Linked DNA regions of Homo sapiens. The protein of the gene in region 1 interacts with the protein of each later gene in a pairwise test. Each region holds a gene or a part of one and is shown in the gene's direction. Other genes may lie near its edges.

Region 1 (3,860 bases):
CGTCTGCCTTGGCCTCCCAAAGTGCTGGGATTATACACATGAGCCACTGTGTACACCCAGCCTATCAAGTGATTTTTAATGTGAAAACACACCACTTGTTTTAATTTTGGGAAAGCCTGGAGCCTCACAGAGTTTAGCTGATTTAAGTTAATCATTTTCAGTATGTTGGAAGCTTATAACCAAGTATGAGACAAACATATTCTGAAGCTTAAATGAAAATGAATATTAAATTAATACCTCTGTTTGATGCAGTATATCACTCACCCACTTCCATCTCATCCGCAATCCAAATAAATTCTAAGGTGGGAGAAGGGAGAGTGTCTGATGTATTTGACCACCATAAACTCTGCCTGTGAGTTCCTGCCACCAGCCTTCATCAGTCTTGATCATTTCTCGCCAGTGTGTGTCCCTTATCCTTCAGCAGCAAGGGTTTCTACAGTCCTGGAAGCCTGTGAGGAGGCACCTTGCAGGCCTGAAGCCTCATTGTGTTACTTCCTTTCCTTGTGTCACTATTTACCTGGGCAGCCCTGCTCCCATTGGGAGCCCAGGGCTCTCCTAAGAGTGCTGTCTAGACAGCTGCTCACCTTCCTGGCCAGCCAAGCACTGGGTGACAGTGAGGGGCTTCCAGGATTGTATGACTTCCAGGACTGTTTGAGGCTTGGCTTCCTCAAACCTTTTTCATAATATGATCCTGGTCTGGGATGTCCACGGCCTCAGTGGCAACTGTAGGTCAGCCCCAGGTAATGGCAGGTACTGCTATTTTAGTTGGTGGCAGAGTCAGGAGAAGGAAAGAGGAGGACTGGTTGCTATAAAGTAGAATGGTTATGGAAGGAAAACATGCATCACTGTTTCCTCATAAAATGGAAAAAAGATTGAATCTAGAAATGATTTGTTGTTCATCTTTCCATCCCTAATAGTTGTCAACATTTGTTGAGCAATTACTATGTGCCAAATGTAGCTCTAAGCGCTTCTCACTCAACTCACTGAATCCTCTTAAAAACCTTGTGAGCAGGACAGTGATGCACAGACAGGTCCTGTGTCCCCTGAGTGGTAGAGCAAGGGTCAGACATGGTTGTGGGGTTCCAGTCTTGGAGTTCCTGAGTGGTGGAGCCAGTGTCAGACATGGCTGTGAGGCTCCAGTCTGTGGGGTTCCTGAGTGGTGGAGCCAGGATTCAGATATGGCAATGGGATTCCAGTCTGTGCTCTTAATACCACCCTGAGCTGCCTGATGTGAATACAGCACCTGACTCATGGTAGCTGCTCAATAAATTTTTTATTGGCTGTTTAAAGAAAAGAGAATATTAAATGGTTATCTGTACACTTCCCTTGAAGTGAGAATGGAGTTTATTTTCTGCTTTCAAATTTATAATATACCCCACCCACTGACTTACCTCTACTAGAATAACAAAAGGCCTTGCAAGGGTCACATCTAAAAGTATTTTGTCAAGCCATGTGCGGCAGCATGTGCCTACTCGGAGACTGAGGTGTGAGGATTGCTTAGGTCCAGGAGTTCAAGGCTGCAGTGAGCCATGATTGTACCACTGCACTCCAGCCTGGGCGACAAGATTCCATCTCTTTAAGAAAAAGTATATTGTTAGAAAATTTAGTATATAACAAAGATAGTTGTTCAAAGCAGTAGGTAAAAATAGATTATTCAGTAGAGGGCCCTGGCAGAACTGGCTTGTCACTACAGGAAAAAAAAAAGCTGCATTCTTTGTATTTCCTTACTTCTGCATTCTTTGTATTTCCTTACTCCTTACATCAAAAAGGAGTTTTAAATGGATGAACAATTTAAATGTAAATATGAAACTGTACATTGGAAAAAAATGTGGGTAAGTTGTTTATAAACTTAGAATAGGAAATGCCCTTCTAAATATAACAACAATCGAGAAGTAATAAAGGATTGACAAGATTAGGTTATTTAAAACAACAACAGAGTGGCTGGTAAGATGGCCAAATAGCAACAGCTCTGGTCCGCAGCTCCCAGCGAGATCAACACAGAAGACAGGTGATTTCTGCATTTCCAACTGAGGTACCTGGCTCATCTCACTGGGACTGGTTAGACGGTGGATGCAGCCCACAGAGGGTGAGCAGAAGCAGGGTGGGGCATCGCCTCATCTAGGAAGTGCAAGGGGTTGGGGAACTCCTCCCCTAGCCAAGGGAAACTATGAGGGACTGTGCCATGAGGGACAGTGCACTCTGGCCCAGATACTACGCTTTTCCCATGCTCTTCGCAACCCACAGACCAGGAGATACCCTCAGGTGCCTACACCACCAGGGCCCTGGGTTTCAAGCACAAAACTGGGCGGCCATTTGGGCAGACACTGAGCTAGCTGCAGGAGTTTTTTTTTTTTTTTTTTTTTTTTTTTTGGTACCCCAGTGGCACTTGGAACGCCAGCGAGACAGAACTGTTCACTCCCCTGGAAAGGAGGCTGAAGCCAGGGAGCCAAGTGGTCTAACTCATTGGATTCCACCCCAATGGAGCCCAGCAAGCTAAGAAACACTGGCTTGAAATTCTTGCTGCCAGCACAGCAGTCTGAAGTTGCCCCGGGATGCTCGAGCTTGGTAGAGGGGAGGGGCATCCGCCATTGCTGAGGCTGGAGTAGGTGGTTTTCCTCTCACAGTGTAAAGAAAGCTGCCAGTTCGAACTGGGTAGAGCCCACTGCAGCTCGGCAAAGCCACTGTGGCCAGACTGCCTCTCTAGATTCCTCCTCTCTGAGCAGGGCATCTCTGAAAGAAAGGCAGCAGCCCCAGTCTTACAGATAAAACTCCCAGCTCCCTGGGACAGAGCACCTGGGGGAAGGGGTAGCTGTGGGCACAGCTTCAGCAGACTTAAATGTTCCTGCCTGCCAGCTCTGAAGAGAGCAGCAGATCTCCCAGCATAACACTCAAAGTCTGCTAGGGGACAGACTGCCTCTTCAAGTGGGTCCCTGACCCCTGTGCCTCCTGACTGGAAGACACCTCCTAGCAGGGGTTGACAGCTCACCTCATACAGGAGAGCTCCGGCTGGCATCTAGTGGGTGCCCCTCTGCGACAAAGCTTCCAGAGGAAGGAACAGGCAGCAATCTTTGCTTTTCTGATGCCTCCACTGGTGATACCCAGGCAGTGTCTGGAGTGGACCTCCAGCAAACTCCAGCAGACCTGCAGCAGAGGGGCCTGACAGTGAGAAGGGAAACTAACAGAAAGGAATAGCATCAACAAAAAGGACATCCACACAGAAACCCCATCTGAAGTTCACCAATATCAAAGACCAAAGGTAGATACATCCACAAAGATGAGGAAAAACCTGCACAAAAAGGCTGAAAATTCCAAAAACCAGAATGCCTCTTCTCCTCCAAAGGATCACACCTCCTCGCCAGCAAGGGAACAAAACTGGACAGAGAATGAGTTTGATGAACTGACAGAAGTAGGCTTCAGAAGGTGGGTAATAAACTCCTCCGAGCTAAAGGAGCATGTTCTAACCCAATGCAAGGAAGCTAAGAACCTTGAAAAAAGTTTAGAGGAATTGCTAACTAGAATAACCAGTTTAGAGAAGAACATAAATGACCTGATGGAGCTGAAAAACACAGCACGAGAACTTCGTGAAGCATATGCAAGTATCAATAGCCAAATCGGTCAAGCGGAAGAAAGGATATCAGAGGTCGAAGATCAACTTAATGAAATAAAGCGTGAAGACAAGATTAGAGAAAAAAAGAATGAAAAGGAATGAACAAAGCCTCCAACAAATATGGAACTATGTGAAAAGACCAAACCTATGTTTGATTGGTGTACCTGAAAGTGAGGGGGGGAATGGAACCAAGTTGGAAACACTCTTCAGGATATTATCCAGGAGAACTTCCCCAACCTAGCAAGACAGGCCA
Region 2 (2,869 bases), on another chromosome or scaffold:
TGATCGTGGCCACCGGGACCACCGTGTGTGCCTGCCCACCAGGCTTCGCTGGACGGCTCTGCAACATCGGTGAGTGGGTCAGCCCCCCGGGGTGCCCTGGGGCAGTGCCGGGTGGACCCACCGTGGGCCGGCCTCACTGCCCCTCTGCCCGCAGAGCCTGATGAGCGCTGCTTCTTGGGGAACGGCACTGGGTACCGTGGCGTGGCCAGCACCTCAGCCTCGGGCCTCAGCTGCCTGGCCTGGAACTCCGATCTGCTCTACCAGGAGCTGCACGTGGACTCCGTGGGCGCCGCGGCCCTGCTGGGCCTGGGCCCCCATGCCTACTGCCGGTCAGCACCACGCCGCTCCAGGCCGCCGCATGCGGGGCAGGCAGGATTTGTCCTGGGGAGAGGCCCCCCGGCTCCCTAGGACCCAGGCGGGGCCAGCTCCGTCCAGACAGGCCCCGGAACCTCTGCCTGGGAGGCTGCCCGAGGGAGGGCCACTCTCTTCCCACTGCTCCAGGTGCGGGGAACCGCCCTGCTGGGGGTTCCGATGCCCCCTCCCCATGCCCTCTTCGAGGGGCAGTGTGACTCCCTGCCAGCCCCCACTTATGCACCGCAGGAATCCGGACAATGACGAGAGGCCCTGGTGCTACGTGGTGAAGGACAGCGCGCTCTCCTGGGAGTACTGCCGCCTGGAGGCCTGCGGTGCGCGGCTGGCGGGGGGTGCTGCCTTGGGCCCCACCGAGGTCACAGCAGTTTTCCCCGTGATCCTCCTAGCCCCTCCGCACACCTGGCTACTGCATCTCTGACAAATGGGGAAACTGGAGCTCACGGGATCAGGCTGGTCCAAGGTCACGCAGTGGGTCGGTACTGGGGTCACAGTGGGGAAGCAGCCCGCTGCAGGGGGCTGGTCACCAGGCGACGGCCTCGGGGTGGCACCTGCCCAGCCTGGACCATGCCCAGGATGGCCGCAGAAGCCTTTCAGGGAGGTGCAGGGAGGGCAGCGTGCAGGCCCCCCAGAGGCCACCTGCTTCCTGCCCTGGGGAGAGGCCCCCCGGCTCCCTAGGACCCCGGCGGGGCCAGCCCGGGGCTCTCATGTGGGGGTCTCTGACTGTGCTGGGGCTGGCTGTGGGGTTCCGGGCTGCTGAGGGGGCCACAAAGGCCTCCGTGTGTCCAGCCCCTCTGGCCCTCACAGAGCCTCGGGATCGGGCATCAAACCCCATTCTACAGATTTGGAAACTGAGGGCAGAGGTGAGTGGGCGCCAGGGCCTGAGCAGCGTGGACAGGGGGTCCGGCCATGGCCCTCTGCAGCGCCTCCTGCCGGGTAGGGCCTGTGTGTGGAAGGGGGCTGGCCCTGTGAACCCCAGGGGTGTGACCCGGTGACCTTTGCTCCCAGAATCCCTCACCAGAGTCCAACTGTCACCGGATCTCCTGGCGACCCTGCCTGAGCCAGCCTCCCCGGGGCGCCAGGCCTGCGGCAGGAGGCACAAGAAGAGGACGTTCCTGCGGCCACGTATCATCGGCGGCTCCTCCTCGCTGCCCGGCTCGCACCCCTGGCTGGCCGCCATCTACATCGGGGACAGCTTCTGCGCCGGGAGCCTGGTCCACACCTGCTGGGTGGTGTCGGCCGCCCACTGCTTCTCCCACAGGTGCACCTCCTCTGGGCCCCAGTCACCTGCCCTGAGGCCCCACACACCATCCAGCGTCACTATGCGCCTGTCCCCACCCGCTTGCGGACCCCATCCCGGTGCCTCTGCTGACCCCTTCCCGGGGTCCCCGGTAACCCTCTCTGACCCCTCTGGGTCTTGGGGCTCAGTCCTGAGCTGGGCATGCATGGACACTCCAGAAACCCTGTCCCTATTGAGGGAGGCCAGGGGTCAGTGGCATTTCCACAGAGGACCCAGCGCCTGCGGAGAGTGCAGTGGGCCAGGTCCTGTCCTCCCCGCAGGCCCCGCCCCTCCCAGAGTCCTGGCTCTCAGTAGGGAGCCAGGGAGCGCAGTGACAATGCGTCAGAGCCCTAGGAGCCCAAGCACAGCCAGGGAAACTGAGGCCCAGCCCACTCAGCCGGCTCCCCTCAGTGGGGGCGCACAGCCACCCAGGCCCACACTCTGGGAGGCGGGCCTCGAGTGGGGAGACCCTGAGACGGAGCAGCCTGGGCCAGACGCCCTTCCACCTTCGATGGGCACCCCAGTGATTAGGGGCAGGGGTCCGGCCAGCCGAGGGTCTGGCGGCCTTTCGAGGACCACAGCTCCCAGGGTGGGGTCCTGCGTGGCCCTGCAGAACCTGCAGCCGGCGGCTCCTGGGCCTGCAAATGGGGCCAGAGCCTTCCTCAGTGTGGAGAAATGGGGTTCCCCACATGGAGCCCAGGGCAGGAGGCCGAGGCAGGGTGGAGCGACCTCCACACAGCAGATGGGAGCCAGGCTCAGGGGCCCAGGCTCTGTGCCCAGCAGGAGTGAGGGCTGCATCTGGGGACCCCACAATGTGGATGGAAGCTGGGGCAGGGCCTGAGCAGGCCAGGTCTCCACCCACTCGGGTCGGCCTTGCAGCCGATCCTGCCTGGGCTTGGCCTGAGACTCCCCCCAGGGCTTGTGACCAGTGTTGTCAGGAGGGATGGCACCGCACTTCAGCTCCCATGCCTGGATCTGGGGGTGACTGGCAATAGCCCCTGCTTGGTGGTCCCTGTCTCCCCAGTATCAACAGCCCACACCCAGGCACCTGCTCAGACCCCTCCCCGGGACCAGGGTCCCACACCATTGGCCTCCGTGGGCCTGACAGGGGGTGGGGAGAGGTGAGCCCGGTGGCTGGGGGAGGGCTGGTCCATGCAGCCTCCAGCCCCCCTTGCACAGCCCCCCCAGGGACAGCGTCTCCGTGGTGCTGGGCCAGCACTT

Evidence for each region.
Region 2: the proteins of GOLM1 (region 1) and HGFAC interact in binary tests that used the Homo sapiens proteins (3 or more experiments, as listed by UniProt).

The regions. Positions count from the first base shown.
Region 1 is NC_000009.12:86,089,297-86,093,156, reverse strand, and holds part of GOLM1 (Golgi membrane protein 1), read left to right. Parts: intron 1-3,860.
Region 2 is NC_000004.12:3,444,665-3,447,533, forward strand, and holds part of HGFAC (hepatocyte growth factor activator serine protease isoform 2 preproprotein), read left to right. Parts: coding exon 1-69; intron 70-154; coding exon 155-329; intron 330-600; coding exon 601-686; intron 687-1,211; coding exon of another isoform or gene 1,212-1,232; intron 1,233-1,377; coding exon 1,378-1,630; intron 1,631-2,827; coding exon 2,828-2,869. UniProt on the Homo sapiens protein: Serine protease that hydrolyzes the inactive zymogen hepatocyte growth factor (HGFsc) to an activated disulfide-linked heterodimer, then initiating hepatocyte growth factor receptor signaling pathway.